Linked DNA regions of Homo sapiens: region 1 is linked to region 2. The links come from fine-mapping of genetic effects on gene expression. Tissue or cell type: whole blood. Region 2 holds a variant in brackets; the other region holds the start of a gene. All regions are shown on one strand. Distances are between the middles of the regions.

The links. PIP is the estimated chance that this variant, and not a neighbour inherited with it, causes the effect.
Region 1: it holds the start of IAH1, and the variant in region 2 is fine-mapped to the expression of IAH1 in whole blood (TOPMed, PIP 0.91).

Annotation. Positions count from the first base shown.
Region 1 is chr2:9,471,288-9,479,391 of GRCh38, reverse strand. IAH1 (isoamyl acetate hydrolyzing esterase 1 (putative)) reads right to left here and starts at 4,841. Exons shown (of 6, transcript NM_001039613.3): 1 at 4,745-4,841; 2 at 3,353-3,405; 3 at 1,022-1,170. The coding sequence starts at 4,825. It overlaps CPSF3 (cleavage and polyadenylation specific factor 3), which reads right to left. Exons shown (of 18, transcript NM_016207.4): 17 at 7,953-8,049; 18 at 6,291-6,476. The coding sequence ends at 6,375. RefSeq lists enhancers at 3,222-3,782, 4,263-5,030 and a silencer at 4,300-5,069.
Region 2 is chr2:9,123,319-9,131,422 of GRCh38, reverse strand. LOC105373415 (a long non-coding RNA gene) reads left to right here and starts at 4,280. Exons shown (of 4, transcript XR_922770.1): 1 at 4,280-5,056. RefSeq lists a silencer at 1,756-1,916. The variant G/A (reference allele first, on the strand shown) is at 3,907.

The sequences.
Region 1 (8,104 bases), 350 kb before region 2:
ATATTTTCCTTAACACATCATTTTCTTCTTCAGTTTTTTCGCAGCCTATTTTATTTCATAAACCTGTTTTTCCTCTGTGGCTTCCTCCACTGCTCTTATACTTAGGAAGTGTTTTTTCCTTATGCTAAATTTGATAAAAATTTATCTTTTTAAAAAATTCTGTTTTGAGTTTTCTTATGGTTTTTGGTACAAGATAGAAAGTGAAGATTAATTTCTTCCCAAATATAATGGTTAGTGTGCAGTCTCCACCGATACCTGTCATCTACGTAATCTTTCTCCTAGAGAGCAAGAATTCCTCTTACTGCAGTTGGTGTTCCTTCATGTCCAGCCTCAACTCAGAGGTCTCCTACGGTGTGCCCGTGAATAGCAGACCACAGCACTTCTGTGACACAAGTAGGGTAACAAAAGAAATCTCTGGAAGGTGACTACCTAACTTCCCAAAACAAAGGCTGATTTTTCTCGTCGATAGCACGCAGAAGGCTTTTTTCAAGAGTAGAAGGGGAAGAAAGGCCTCTTACATGGCTAGCTTTCCTCTAGTCACAGCAGCAATTCTTCAGCAGTCAAGGAGAGACCATCTCCTTTTCCAAACCCACGTTCACCATTGCCCAGGATTCAAGCCTAACTGAGGTCAGGGTGGCTGCTGCCCTGACATATCCCTCCCTAAGACACGCCACCAGCTGCCATCAGTGTGATGCAAGCCACAAGGTATCCTTAAGCTTTCTGCTGCCAAATGCATCAACTAAAGAGAACACATTACAAACTTAGCATAGCACTAACAGACTCTAGAAAATATTTAACTGTTTGCAAGATTAGGACTGCCAGCAACCAAGGTATGTAGAAACTGAGTCAAGAATAAAATCCACCAGTGTTAAAGCCAGGAATACATATAAACAACATAAGTTTGGCAAAACTGTATCTATTGGGAGAAAGTAAACAGTTGAAAAAAGTATATTAAATGCAAGTTTGCTGTAACATAAAAATGATTAAAAGTGAGCTAGAAGAACATCAAAAATGCTTTTACCTTTTAGTGCACTGTCATTGGCCCCAAAGAAAATTGTAACTGCTACTGGGATGTCCAAACTGTTTCCTTTCCTGATTAATCTTGGAAGGATAATTTTGGCCCACCTGGTATTGTAACCTGAAAATCCACGATTCAGAACATCACATTTTCTGAAACGAAAAATTTTAAAAAGATGAATTGTGGGCAAGAAGTGTTTATGGTCGCAGTAACCGGCCTTTAGTGAGGGTGTGCTCTCTGGGATTCTAAACCCGTCACGTGTCTCTGAGCCACCCCCAGGTTTCACTTTGATAGGAGCAAGAACATAGCTGAAGCATGCTAATCTTAAGCCATTCAAAGATACAGGTAAATACACCATACTCCTCCGTGAGAGAAGTAATTATATATAAAGGGGCTGTGATGAAGTCTACAGACTACCTGACTTCAAGCATGGTATAGTGAGGTGCTTTTAAAATGGAGTTCACAACAGATAGATAATCTGAGCAAGTATCTCAGGTAAAAAGTCACTAATATCCTGGAACTTAAATAGTTTAGTTTGGTTTATATTTAAACAGTCTATAGAATATTTGAGATTTCTGGTTTTGATTAAATAGTTTTAGTAAATACATTCGTTGTGTTTCAACTTAAACCGGTTAATACTTTTTGTTTCCTTCTTAAAAACAGTTGGATTCACAGTACTGTAGGTGTAATGGGGGAAAAAAAAAAAAAAGCCGGGTTGCCTGGATTTGTTTCTCGGCTCCCTGTGTGACTAGGCGTGACCCTGGGCACGCTGTGCTCCTTCCTCACATGTAAAGTGAGGAGAATCCCAGTTAAGGATTCGCATCAGGCAGTAGGTTTGAAACCCCTCAGAGAATACCAGTCACATAAGAGGGACTCTTTTTTTCTTAGTCTTGGTAAAATGATATGATTTGGGATTTGCTTCAGAATAATCCATAGGAGGGATGGATGGGCTCATTTCACTCTTTGCTTCTGTAGATATTTAAAGTTGTCCATAAAGTTTTCTTAAAATGACGCCTGGGGTTCAACTTATGATTAGTAAATCAATATGGTTCATTTTGCTGTATTCACATTCCCATACATGCATAACCAAGCAGAGAAGCTGGGGCACCCGCGGAGAACTGCAGGCCACAGCGTCAGGCAGCGGCTCCAAAGCAGCACAAGGGGACACTTTCTGACACTGCTCAAAGTTCTCAGGTGGCATTTATAAACTGCAGAACCACCACCGAAACTCAGCCTTATTTCTAAGAGATTGTTTGTGTGTGTAATGATTATAAAATGCGACTAGCCATTTTACAGAGTGAAATCACAATACTTTAATGAAGTGCTGGGCTGGGTGTGGTAGCGAGTGCCTGTTGGTCCCAGCTACTCAGGAGGCTGAGGTGATGATGCCTTCAGCCCCAGAGGTGGAGGCTGCAGTGAGCCCTGATCACACTGCTGCACTCAAGCCTGTGTGACAGAGTTGTCAGGCCTCTGAGCCCAAGCTAAGCCGTCATAACCTGTTACCTGCACGTATACATCCAGGTGGCCTGGAGCAACTGAAGAACCACAAAAGGAGTGAAACAGCCAGTTCCTGCCTTAACTGATGACATTCCACCATTGTGATTTGTTCCTGCCCCACCCTAACTAATCAATCGACCTTGTGGCATTCCTCCCCTGGACAATGAGTCTCAGGAGCTCCCCACAGAGCACCTTGTGACCCCCTTCCCCTGCTAACAATAGATAACCACCTTTAACTGTAATTTTCCACTACCTACCCAAATCCTATAGTACTGCCCTACCCATCTCCCTTTGCTCTTTTCAGACTCAGCCCACTTGCACCCAAGTGAATAAACAGCCTTGTTGCTCACACAAAGCCTGTTTGGTGGTCTCTTCACGTGGACGCGCCTAACAAGAGACCCTGTCGCAAAACAAAAACCACCAAAAACCAAAACAAAGTGCGGTAGAATTGTGACAAGGTGAGTCTTAAGTCATGGCAGCACTTCAAAAAAAGGCAAAGTAGCTTCCTACCAGTGTGGTGTAGCAGTGAAACTGCAAGTTCTGCAGTCATAGCAGCTGGACTTGGATCTGTCTGCCCCTGACTAGGGAAGAGGCCTTGGCCATTTCCTTGATTTGTCTGAGTCTACCCAGCCATCAGTGCTCAACCCTAAAATATCTAATTGGTCAGACTGAGTGAAGAGTAAATGTTTTCTGTTCCTTCTCCTATATACTGATTAGGGGAGGCAAGCAAAATTAATAAAGGAGGAATGTTCTGTTCAGAACTATCCTTCATCCATAAGACGGATCCCTAAGACATTTTCCATCCATAAGAACTCAAGTATCGGAAACCATTCTCACCTGACCAGCCTGTCAGCCAGCGATGCTCCCCATCCACCCTGCTGGAAGGAAAACTGGAGGAAGAAAAGCCCATTATTACTACTAATGACTGTAACCGGGCATCTCAGCGAGGGCAGTTCTGATTGGCAACTTCTGTTTTCTCGGCGCTCCCTTCTTGGCTTTGATTGCTTCACTCCAGGAGGTCATTTTGGGGATTACAGGTAAGTACACCTGGCAGCACTTTAGCAGAGGGGGATTTTTCTCTATCAAAAGCTAAACAGCCTGTATTCCCAGCACTTTGGGAGGCCAAGGCGGGCGGATCACATGAGGTCTCGAGTTCGAGACCAGCCTGGTCAACATGGCGAAACCCCGTCTCTACTAAAATTACAAAAATTAGCCCGGTGTGGTGGCGCACGTCTATAATCCCAGCTACTCGGGAGGCTGAGGCAGGAGAAACGCTTGAATCCGGGAGGCGGAGCTTGCAGTGAGCCGAGATCGCGCTACTGCACTCCAGTCTGGGCGACAGAGCGAGACTCCGTCTCAAAAAAAGAAAAAAAGAAAAAAAAAAAAAAGCTAAACAGAAATCTAAGTTCAGGAAATAAAGTCAAAGGTCAGTGAGGAAATGAAGGCCACACCGCCTCACTGCTTTGCTGGTTACCGAGCTGAGGGTGAACACTTTTTCATACACATTCCCATGGAATTCGGCAGCTCTGACTGCCCCATATGCCTAAACATAATGTTACCAGTTACTGGCGTATACACAAAAGCCTGGTGAAGCAAGTCCTGTCTGAGAAGAGGACACACACAGGAATGGAATTTCTACTCCCTCCCCGAAGTAAGAACCTGCATTTAGAAGACCGTTCCCTTCATGGGAGGTGAGATGATCTTGGATGAACGGATGGTCCTTTTCTACCTAATTCCTGAAGGCGTTTTACTTCCAAGGTCAACCCCTAACGGCCCCACCTGTGCCCGCAGGGAATGGGGCGAGAGAGCTCCTGGCGCCTCTGCCCGGAGCTGGCCGCGGGGCCTCCTGGGACACAGCGCGCGGTCGCCCGCGGCCGCTAACCCGGACCCGGAGGGGAAAGGCCGCTGCCCAGGAGGGCGCTGAGGGGAAGACCGCGCATCTCGACCCGGGTGGGAGGCGGCGCGGGGCGGGCAGCGCGGCCGGGTCCCCTCGCGTCTGTGCCTGGAGCCCGGGCTCTCGCGGACGCCGTCGTGACCTCCGGGACGCCGCGGGCCCGGAAGGCGCAGCCACTGGGGGACCCGCCACTCCTCCGGTGTCTCCACGGGCGTGGCCAGGCCTCCGGCCCAGCCGTCTCGGGCGCCGAAGAGGACGGCGAGGAGCCTCGGCCTGCTCGGCAGCGACCCCGCAGGGAGGCCGGGGCGGGAGGCCGAGCGTCGGGGCGGCCGTACCTGGGTGATGGAGTCCCCGAAGAGCAACAAGCGAGGCCAGAGCAGGGCACTCCCGCAGCCCGCGGCCTCGCACAGCGCCATGGAGCAGCCGGGCGGGGCGGGGCGGGGCCGCCAGCCACGAGAGGCGCCTGCGCAGTGGCCGCCCGTGGGTTGCGGGAGCCGGGCTCGTGGGCACCCACGCAGTCACTTTGGTGACGCGCGAAGGTCGTTGCCCCTTGGAGTCCGTTTGCAAGAAGCTCGGCCTCCGCGCTTGCTCACCCACAGCAAGGCTGCCCCCAGGGAGTCCGGAGCCCGCGTCCCGCTGCGTGGTTCCCGGAAGAAAAGCGGTTGGGGGCCCTTCTAAGCCCACCCCGCGCTCCGCGGGCGCAGGTGCGTTCGGCAAAGGGCAGGAGTGTGACCTCAGGACGCGCGGCGGGAAGCACAGCTGGCTCTCGGTGGGGCGGAGGGCTGCTCCAGGCCCCCCTGGAAGAGGTCGTGGGATGCGCGCGCGGCCTCCTGCGCCCAGCGTCACTCTGGAGGGCCTGTAACACCCACGAGGACGCAGGCACTGCGGAAACCCTGGCAGTACCTCGTGGTTCTGCGAATGACAAGGGAAAGCAGCTGCACCTTCAGTGCGCGCGCAGCCGGCCGCTTTTCTTTTTCCCGCCGTGGGGTGGATGCGCAGATGCAGAACCCCGCGGACACGGAGCACTGACTAACTTCCAAGGGATTCACCTGTTAAAACGTGGTTGTAATGCAACGTTCTTACCTCAACTGTGCAATGAAGTTCGGCAGCCGAGCTAAAAACGAACGGGTGGGAAGGATGCCTTGAAATCACGGAGCTGTAGATGAGTAACAGAAGGGCCAGGGGCGCCGGCGCAGAGGCCGACCCCGCTCCCTGGGGCGGGGCGATGGGCGTAGAGCATGACTTTCTTTAGGTTGCTCGTCCCAAGCTCGCTTGGATCACCTGGGGGAGCTTTACAACTAAGATCCAACCTAGGGCCCTCATTCCAGCCGGACTAACTCACCTCCTGGTGGCAGGACTTGGGCACAGGTGCACTTGTGATGCACCCCACGTGATTCCCACGGGTAGCCCAGATTGAGAGCCCCTGCTAGAGCAAGCAAAGGTGCCTGGACTTCATCTTTATCACAAGGACTTCATTAAGGCCTTCAAGCAGCAGAGGCTTGAGGCCAGGTCTGTTCCAGGAATCAGCTATAGGGGAGGAGATGGAGGTGGTTGCAGGAATTCAGAGGGGAGAGTAGACTTGGACTCGAACAGCAGCAGTGGAGATGAAGACAGAAAAGATTCAAGTGCAACTTAGAATCCTTATTATTAACTCAAATTGGTTACCCCAGAGGAGAGGGTAACCAGCAGCGGTTGCTATCGGCAGATCTTGATGGTTTCAATGGGAGCTGCACATACATGCCTGGAAGAAGAATCCAAAATTCTAAAATAATGGGCAGTTGATCTAGTAGTTAGTTCTAGAATAATGGACAAATTAATTAGCAATTTAGCAGTATTCAGGCTGTTGAAATAAAGGCCATTTGACATTAAAAGTAAACAGGCTCCCCCAGAGAAACGAATGCATTTTATTTTAGGTAACAAAAGTAGAGTCAAGTATTTTTTCAAAGTTCATATACAGGCACAGTCTCAGTGAACTGGCGTCAGGGCCTCGTACAGTCTCTGTGCAGCCAGCTCCACCATTTCTCGGAGGGATTCATCGTCTTCACTTCCCTCTTCACATTCTACAGTCTGAAAGTGAGGCACAAACAAGACTGTTAGAATTAAGTCTATAATGATTATATAGAAGATAAATGAATACTCTTTAAAAAAACCATCATCTCATAAAAAATTAGCCAGCTGTGGTGGCGTGTGCCTGTGGTCCCAGATAAGAGTCTGAGGTGGGAGGATCACTGAGCCGGGAAGGTTGAGGCTGCAGTGAGCTGTGACTGCACCACTGCACTCCAGCCTGGGCGGCACTGCGAGACCGGGTCTCAAACTAAAAAAAAGAACAATCATCTGTGTGTGCAGAGGTCATGGTGGGACTGATTACCATGAAACAGAACGGCCGCCCTACACACTTGTGGGCGTGCAGTGCTTCCTGACAGCAGCACGGTCCTAATTAGTGATGACTTGAGGCTGGGGTGAAAGACTGGGGAAAGTCTAGTAAACTACATTTACATCAAAGCCCACAGTTTGATCTAGTAAATGATACTCCAGGGAAGTTCATCTATGCCACACAAATTACTTGGCAAGGAATGGATGTGGCTATCTACTCAACATTTGGTACTGAATTTGACTGAAACTCACTAATAATCTTCTAGTTGCTTCTTTTTTTTTTTTTTTTTGAGACAGAATCTCGCTCTGTCGCCCAGGCTGGAGTGCAGTGATGTGATCTCAGCTCACTGCAACCTCTGTCTCTTGGGTTAAGGTGATTCCTGGGTTCTCCTGCCTTAGCCTCCCAAGTAGCTGGGATTACAGGCACACCACCACGCCTGGGTAATTTTTGTATTTTTAGTAGAGATGGGGTTTCATCATGTTGGCCAGGCTGGTCTCAAACTCTTGACCTCAGATGATCCACCCACCTTGACCTCCCAAAGTGTTGGGATTACAGGCGTGAACCACCACGCCTGGCCTCTAGTTCTTTTTTTTTTTTTTTTTGGAGACAGAGTCTCGCTCTATCATCCAGGCTGGAGTGCAGTAATGTGATCTTGGCTCACTGCAACCTCTGCCTCCCTGTTTCAAGCAATTCTCCTGCCTCAGCCTCCTGAGTAGCTGGGACTACAGGCAGCTGCCGCCATTCCCGGCTAATTTTTTTTGTATTTTTTAGTAGAGATGGGGTTTAACTGTGTTGCCCGGGCTGGTTTTGAACTGTTTGGAAAATCCACTTGGATCTTGCTGGTGCAAACAGAAGAGCGGCTTCTTTAAAAAATGGAGAGTCAACTAGATGCCAAACTAGAGAAGGGATGAGGTGAACTAAGCTGTATTATGGAAGAGGACAGCAATGGAGTGGCATACACGCGAACCTTGTACTATGCAGTAACCCGGAAAAACACGGAAAACTTCAACCATAATAATATAAAAAGAACAATGTGAAAAAAATGTTGGAAACACTGGAAGCAAATGCCAATATGCAACAGTAGACTGTTGAGTGTGAGAGCACAGATTATTTATGCCTTCACTTTATTTCCCAAATGTCTTGAAACGTAGGAAAGAGCAGCTACATACCCGTGTCTCCAAGTTAAGGTTGGCAGTTTTCCCGTCCACTGTGACGCTAAGAATAGAGTCATCCTTTACACTTACACAGTCTTCTCCAAATATGTCCCTGAAAATAAGCAGAAATGCAGGATTAGTGAAAATGCCCGGCTTTATATATTTGA
Region 2 (8,104 bases):
ATTTTGTTTTAAACCTATAATCCATATCCTATCATTTGGAGACATTTTCTTGAATAACTTATTTGATGATTTTTTTTCCTGCATTTTTTTTGGGGGGGGATCTTGTTTTATTTGGACCTTGTACCAAATGTCTTCTGTTTCCTTTTCTAGAACTTTCCCCCTCTCTGCCCTCCTTTTTTTTGGTGTCCTCTTCAATTTCCATCATCAGTGTTTTATAGTTTTTATTATAGAAATATTTCACTTCTTTGGTTAGTTAATTCCCTGGTGTTTAATTTTATTTGTGGCTGTTGTAATGGGATTACATTTTAAATTTATTTTTCCGATTGTTTGCTATTGGCAAATAGAAATCCTACTGATTTTTGCATGTTAATTTTGTATCTTGCAACTTTACTGATCAGTTTTAATAGTTTTCTCGTGGAGTTAATTATATTATCTCTGTATTTTTAGGTCTGTTGGAAAATTTAGATGATAAGTTTTTAAAAAGACTGAGGAATATCTGCTTTTGACAGTGGCAGACTAGGTTGTTTTAGGCTGAACTTCCAATGTGAACAAAAAACAATGGAATACACACACACCCACGTACACACATGCACACATGCACATGCACACACACTACATGCATGCACCCACACACACGCATGCACACATATGCATGCACACACACATACACGCATGTACACATGCACACACACACACACAGAGGGAAATCCAGAGAGGAGAGCCTGGCATCGGTCCCTCCTTTTACTTGGGGGTGATTTTAATTCAAAAGTAGGCTGGGTCCGGTGGCTCATGCCTGTAATCCCAGCACTCTGGGAGGCCGAGGCAGGCAGATCACCTGAGTTCAGGAGTTCGAGACCAGCCTGCCCAACATGGCAAAACCCCGCCTCTTCTAAAAATACAAAAAATTAGCTGGGCATCGTGGCGGGCGCCTGTAATCCCAGCTACTTGGGAGGCTGAGACAGGAGAATCACTTGAACCTGGGAGGTGGAGGTTGCGGTGAGCAGAGATCACACCAGTGCACTCCAGCTTGGGCGACAAGAGTGAAACTCCATCTCAAAAAACAAAAAAACAAAAAACCCCACAGAAGTAGTGGTTTGAAAGAGTGAAGCTGAGCAAAGATTTATCAGATGCTTGGGGCTGGAAGAGAAAAAATTAGATTTCAAGGCCCATCCAGGAGGGTCCTGGTAAGTATCCCAGACTTTCGTGGCGCCCTGAAGAACCACACTCCAGTAGCGAAGACTGAACAGAAATAACCCAGCTCTTAGAAAGAACCATGGCCACCACCAAATCTTTTAAGTCCTTGACTGGGTTAGGACCTGGGTTCCTAAACAAAACTCCAAGGCACCGCAGGACGCCCAGTGAGCTCACAGGGTGCAGTGGGATGTTTGAAAATTTTGAGGAGTCTGGCCTGGCGGCCTGCAGTCCCAGCCACGTGGGAGGTTGAGGTGGGAGGATCACTTGAGCCCCCAGGAATTTGAGGTCAGCCTGGGCTGCATAGCAACACCTTGTCTCTAAAAAAAATTTAATTTAATTTAAAAAATCTTTTTTTTTGAGGGAAGAACATTAACCTCTGTCAGACATAACATGAACTTCTTTTTTAAACTTATTATCTATTTATTTATTTGTGTTGATTTTTCATTATTTCTTCAGAACAGAATGAACTCCTATCTTGAGGTAGTTCCCAGTGTCAACTAAGATTGTGGGACTGTCCTCTGAATGACTTCGTGTCTTTGCAGAGCTTCGCTTCCAGCAGTCGCTGTGATAGAGACTTTGAGCTACGTGGAGATCCGTGTGGAGCTGGAAGTGAAGATGATGGCGTCCAATCCACCTCCAAGGCTTAAAAAGTTGTGCAGCGCCCAACGGACACCACATTCCATTGGGAAGTGATTATGGTAGTATGGTAGTTTAAGAATGAAACAAAATATTTTTAATTTATGGGGATCATTTTTTGAATGTCTACTAAGTTGTTAGAATATGAATACTTCAGTTGTTTGTACTTAACTGTCTAATACATGGAACCTCTATCTATTTCTTTTGGCCTAGGAGGGCCGTGAAAAAATTAGGGGGACACTCAAGGTGTTGTCACTGGAGACAGTTTGGGAGCCCCTGGATTATGATGATCAGAGATTGCTTGCTACCTTCTAGCAGCAAAAAGAAATCCTGCTGGGCATGGTGGCTCACGCCTATAGTCCCAGCACTTTGGGAGGCTGAGGCCAGTGGATCACTTGAGGTCAGGAGTTGGAGACCAGCCTGGCCAACATGGTGAAACCCCATCTCTACTAAAAATACAAAAATTAGCTGGATGTGGTGGCTTGTGCCTGTAATCCCAGCTACTGGGGAGGCTGAGGCAGGAGAATGGCTTGAACTCAGGAGTTGGAGGTTGCAGTGAGCCGAGATCACACCACTGCACTCCAGCCTGGGCAACAGAGCAAGACTCCGTCTCAAAAAAAAAAATTCCTTTCTGGATAAAAATAACAGTTCAGAGTCTCAAATTATCTCTATCATTTTCCACACACAGTGCTTGGCAGTCAATAAATGGGCTCTGGAGTAAGAAAAAGACAAGACAGGGGTGAAAACCTGGGAGAAAAATCAGACAATCAGACAATAGAAACAGACCCACGAGGATCCTGATCATGGAATTATCCATGATGAATGCGATCAAGGATGAAAAGGCAAGATTAAGAATTTTTGGCAGAGAACTGGAAAGTATAAAAAAAGAACCAAGTGGAAATTCTGTGAAAAGTGAAAAGTACAGAAACTGAAAATACCGCTGGTGGGTCTGATAGCAGGAAATGTACAAATGAAAGGCATAGAAGAAAATAGTCTGGACAGAAGCACAGAGAGACAAGAGGGGGGAATCGCAGGGTAGAGTTTAAAGAAAATATGGGATAGAATGAAAAGAGCAAACATACCTATAATTGGGGTCACAAAACAGGAGGAGAAAAAATGTGGCAGAAGCAATATTTAAAAACTGAGAGTTCACCAACACTGACAAAAGGCATTCAGGTGTAGATATAATCATCCTTACAAACTCCGCCAGGGAACCTCCTGAGAAAAGAAGCCCCTGCCGTTACTGAGGTGATGGTTATGATCCATTATATTCTCCCTCCCCACACCTGCGCCCTGTGCTTTTGTTGCCCTTAGTACACTTTGCCCTTTTTTTTCTTTTTTTTTTGATGGAGACTCACTCTGTTGCCCAGGCTGGAGTGCAGGAGCGATCTCGGCTCACTGCAACCTCTGCCTCCCGGGTTCAAGCAATTCCCCTGCTTCAGCCTCCCAAGTAGCTGGGACTACAGGCACACGCCGCCACGCCTGGCTAATTTTTTGTATTTTAGTAGAGATAGGGTTTCACCATGTTGGCCAGGATGGTCTCGATTTCCTGACCTTGTGATCTGCCCGCCTCAGCCTCCCAAAGTGCTGGGATTATGGGCGTGAGACACCACGCTTGGCCACTTTGTCCTCATATTTATTTATTTTTTGTACTTCTTAAAAATTTTTTTAATTAAAAAAAAAATAGAGACAGGGTCTTTCTATGTTGCCCAGACTAGTTTTGAACTCCTGGGCTCAAGTGATCCTCCTGCCTTGGCATCCCAAAGTGCTGGGACTACAGACATGAGCCTGTCCTCATATTTACTGATGAGTGTATTAGTGCTATAATGATATGTAGCAAATAACTCCAAAACATATTGGCTTAAAACCACATAATTACTTATCATGTGCCATGGTGTCCTTGGTTTAGGTGTCAGGAGAGGTTTAGCTGGGTGGTTCTGGCCTCTCAGGAGGCTGCAGCTGGGCCAGCTGTCAACCAGGGAGGCGGTTCACTGAAGGCTGAGCTGGGCCTTGTAGGTCCTCTTCCAAGGTGGCAAGTTGGTGCTGGCGATCGACAGGAGGCCTCAGTTTCCCTTC[G/A]CAAGGGTCTTGCCATGGGGCTGCTTGCATGTCTTCGTGGTGTGGCAGCCAGCTTCCTCCAGAACGAGTGAGCCTGGAGTCAGAGGCAGAGGCCAGGATGCCTTTGTGACCTTGATGTGAAGGTCACACACTAGCATGTCTACCGAGTTGTGTTGGTCACATAGGTCAGTCTTTTTTTTGAGACGGTCTTGCTTGATTGCCCAGGCTAGAGTGCAGCTAGATCAGCTAGGGGCTTGATCATGGCTCACTGCAGCCTTGACCTCTCAGGCTCAAGGGATCCTCCCGTCTCAGTCTTCCAAGTAACTGGGACCACAGGCATGCGCCACCATGCTTGGCTACTTAATTTTTTTTTTTTTTTTTAGAGATAGGGTCTTGCTCTATGGCCCAGGCTGGCTTTGAATTTATTTTTATATTATTGTGGTAAAATATATATCACAAACCATGCCATGCTAATCCTTTTCAGATGTGCAATTCAGTGGTGTGAATTATATTCACAATGTACAACCATCACTACATCTACTTCCAAAACCTTCCCACCACTCCATGTAGAAACTCTGTATCCATTAATCAATAACTCCCATTCCCCCATCTCTCCCCATCCCTGGTAGCCCCTAATCTGCTTTCTGTCTCTGTGAATTCTGCCTATTCTAGGAACCTCATTTAAGTAGAATCCTGTGGTTTTTGTCCTTTAGTGCCTGTGTTATTTCACTCAACATAATGTTTCCGAAGTTCCTCCATGTTGTAACATGTGTCAGCATTTTGTTCCTTTTCATAGCTGAGTGCTATTCCATTGTATGGACATACCACATCTCCTCCATCCATTCATCGGTTGATAGGCCAGCCCCACATCAACAAGAGATGCAACTCCATGGGGTTGTGAACATCACCAGGATGTGGGGCTCACTGGGGGCCATCCTAGGGGACGGCTGCCCTAGTAGATTTTGTGTTCAAAGCCAAGTCTCCACTAGAATTTCACCTTCACGGGGTCAAGAACCCAGTCTGCATTTTTACCCCAGTTCGCAGCAGAGGGCCTGACATGAAGCAGATGTGCAGTTGAGGAGGCAGCCCACTCACTGGGGAGCTGCAGAGGGAGACGGTGCTGGTTGCTGGGGTCCAGGAAGCTTCTGGAATGAAGGAACAACAGAACTAGGTAAATTTGACTTGAGTGACAATTTGACTTTTGGGGACAAGATGAGAATGTGACCAAAGTCAGCATATGTAGAGATGGAAAGGACCCCAGAGATCATCCAGGCCAACACCCTTGTTACGTTTCAGGTAAAGAGGTGCGTCCATTTCCTGGGGCTGCCGTGGCAAAGTGCCGCTCACCGGGTGGCTTCGTGCACTTGAAATGTGCTCTCACACAGCTCTGGAGGCCAGAGGCCTGAGATCAAGGTGTTGGCAGGGTTGCTTCCTTCTACAGCCACCCAGGCTACGGCTGGGCCAGCTGTCAGCCAGGGAGGCGGCCACCTGAAGGCTGAGCTGGGCCTGGTGTGTCCTCTTCCAAGGTGGCAAGTGGTGCTGGGATTATCTAGCCCAGGCCTCCCTCCCGGCTTCTGGTGGCCTGATGGGCATCTTCCATGTTCCTTGGCCTGTGGAAACATCACTCCAGTCTCTGCCTCCACCGTCACATGTGTCTCTTCATCTCTCTTATAAGGACACTAGTCATATTGGGTTAGAGGTCCACACTGCTCCAGTATGACCTCATCTTAATTTAACTAATTACATCTGCAACAACTCTATATTTTCCGTTTTTTTTTTTTTTTTTTTTTTTTTTTTTGAGACAGAGTCTCATTCTTTCACCTAGGCCGGAGTGCAGTGGTACAATCTTGGCTCACTGCAACCTCCGCCTCCTGGGTTCAAGCAATTCTCGTGCCTCAGCATCCTGAATAGCTGGGACTATAGGCGTGCACCACCATGCCCGGCTAATTTTTATACTTTTTAGTAGAGTTGGGGTTTCACCATGTTGGCCAGGATGGTCTTGAATTACTGGCCTCAATTGATCTGCCTGCCTCAGTCTCCCAAAGTGCTAGGATTACAGGTGTGAGCCACCGCCTGTATTTTCCCCTTCCTCACTCCCTTCTTTCCTTCCTTCCTTCCTTTCTCTCCCTCTTTCTCTCTCTCTCTCCCTCTCCCTCTCCCTCTCTCTCTCTCTCTCTCCTTTCTTTGATGGAGTCTTGCTCTGTCACCCAGGCTGGAGTGCAATGGTGTGATCTTGGCTCACTGCCACCTCCGCCTCCTGGGTTCAAGTGATTCTCCTACCTCAGCCTCCTGATAGCTGGGATTACAGGCACCTGCTACCACACACAGCTAATTTTTGTAGTTTTAGTAGAGATAGGGTTTCACCATGTTGGCCAGGCTGGTCTTGAACTCCTGACCTTAGGTGATCCGCCCGCCTTCGCCTCCCAAAGTGCTGGGATTACAGGTATGAGCCACCATGCCTGGTCTATATTTTCAAAGAAGGTCACATTCTGAGGTACTGGGGGGTAGGACTTCAACATATCTTTTTTTGGGGGAAACACAGTTCAAGCCATAAGAAAGAGAATGTGCCCTGTTTAAATCTCACAGCTAATTCATCAGGTCTTTGGAAGACCCAGGACTCACTTCTGTCTGCCTCTGATGTCTAATTAATACCAAATTCTCTTCCTTATTCATGAAATTCTAGCAGGGTCTGGCTTCTCTGCCATTCCTGTGTACCTATTATTCAGAAAAAGTAAGGCTCGCGTGGCAGATGGAAAGAAAGATCAGCCAGTTGTCACTGTAGTGTGTTGTTTTCTGCAAGACAGCCATAGGTGCCACAAACAAGGAGACAAAACAGTTGCTTAAGAAAAATGCAGCTCTGACAGCCCTGCCAACGAGCCCTCTGGCTTTACGTAGACATTTCCACTCCATGGCACCCGGAGAGTGTTAATGGATCTGTGTGTTGCTGCGCTGAACCCTGGCAAGGGCGACGGTTTCTCAGACAAAGAAGGTGGCTGCAGTGTCAGCCAAGAGATTGCAAATCTGCAAAGTCGGAAATGCTGAAGGATGCTGGGTCAGCCATCCCGAGAGATGCGTGTCCACACGGCAGGTGGCTGGATGTGGGGTCAGGGCAGGCTCACAGCCTGACCAGGAGAGTTTGTTTCTTGTTTGAGCCAGACGGTAGGGTTACTTAGATGTCTGCTCTGCACTGGGCGTTTGTGTGACAGGGACGAGGGGCAGGCTGGCTTCAGGAACATGTGACTGTGCAGTCACAGCCACACAGGGACTGGTGCGTGGAAGGGCCCTGAGCTGGCTTTGATCCTCTGCTGTCACTGTCTTCATGATATTCGAAGAAGGGGCTTGCATTTTCATTTTGTACTTGGCCCTGCAAATTATATAGTAGGTCCTGACAAGGCCTCTGTCTTGGTTTCCTGTCCTCATTGCTTGATTATTTGTGAGGCAGGCGGTGCCTCTGACAGTCTTAAGCCCATGCTTTGATGTCTCAGAGAACCCATAGCCAGAGGAAGACACGAGGCTGGAGGTCAGGACCCCCATAGGCTTGAGTTTCAACATTGCCAGCAACTTTAGTAGCTACAAGATCTTGGGCAGGGCATTTAGCCTGTGTGGGACTCAGTTTCTTCATCTGTAAAAAGGACATGCTAATAACAGCCCTACCAAACTCACAGAATTGCTATGAGAGTTACTTCTTGAGAGTAAGGACTCAACTTCTCCATTTTGTACCTGTGTGAAATTCCGCCCAGCATCCTGCATTTAGGAACAGTGCCTACTTGATGATTTAAAACATGAGATAATGGGGGAAACCTCTCAGGCAAAGCATCAGAAATGATGGACTGGCATTATGTTTTCTCATAACACGCTGACGTCTTGTGCAAATCTGCCATCTGGACACTGCTGCTAAGAGGGAGACAGAGCCTGCTCACTTTGGGACATGTCCTTGAAAGCGTCCCGCTGTGGGTACATGGAACGCTGAGACATCCTACATGAGCGCTCTCCTCTGTCGCTGAACTTTAACTATCCAGCCCATCCCTTGGAGTGGCATCATGTTTGTCATAGCAGTGACCACCTTTGTGAATGCAAACCATGTGTGAGAGTTTATTTCATTCTCATCACAGCCCTATTATTCTTACTCCATTTGACAGATGAGGCTCTGTCTCAGGGGACCTGTTCCCATCCCACAGCCGAGAGGTGGCAGAGTCAAGGCTGGAACCCGGGTCTGTCT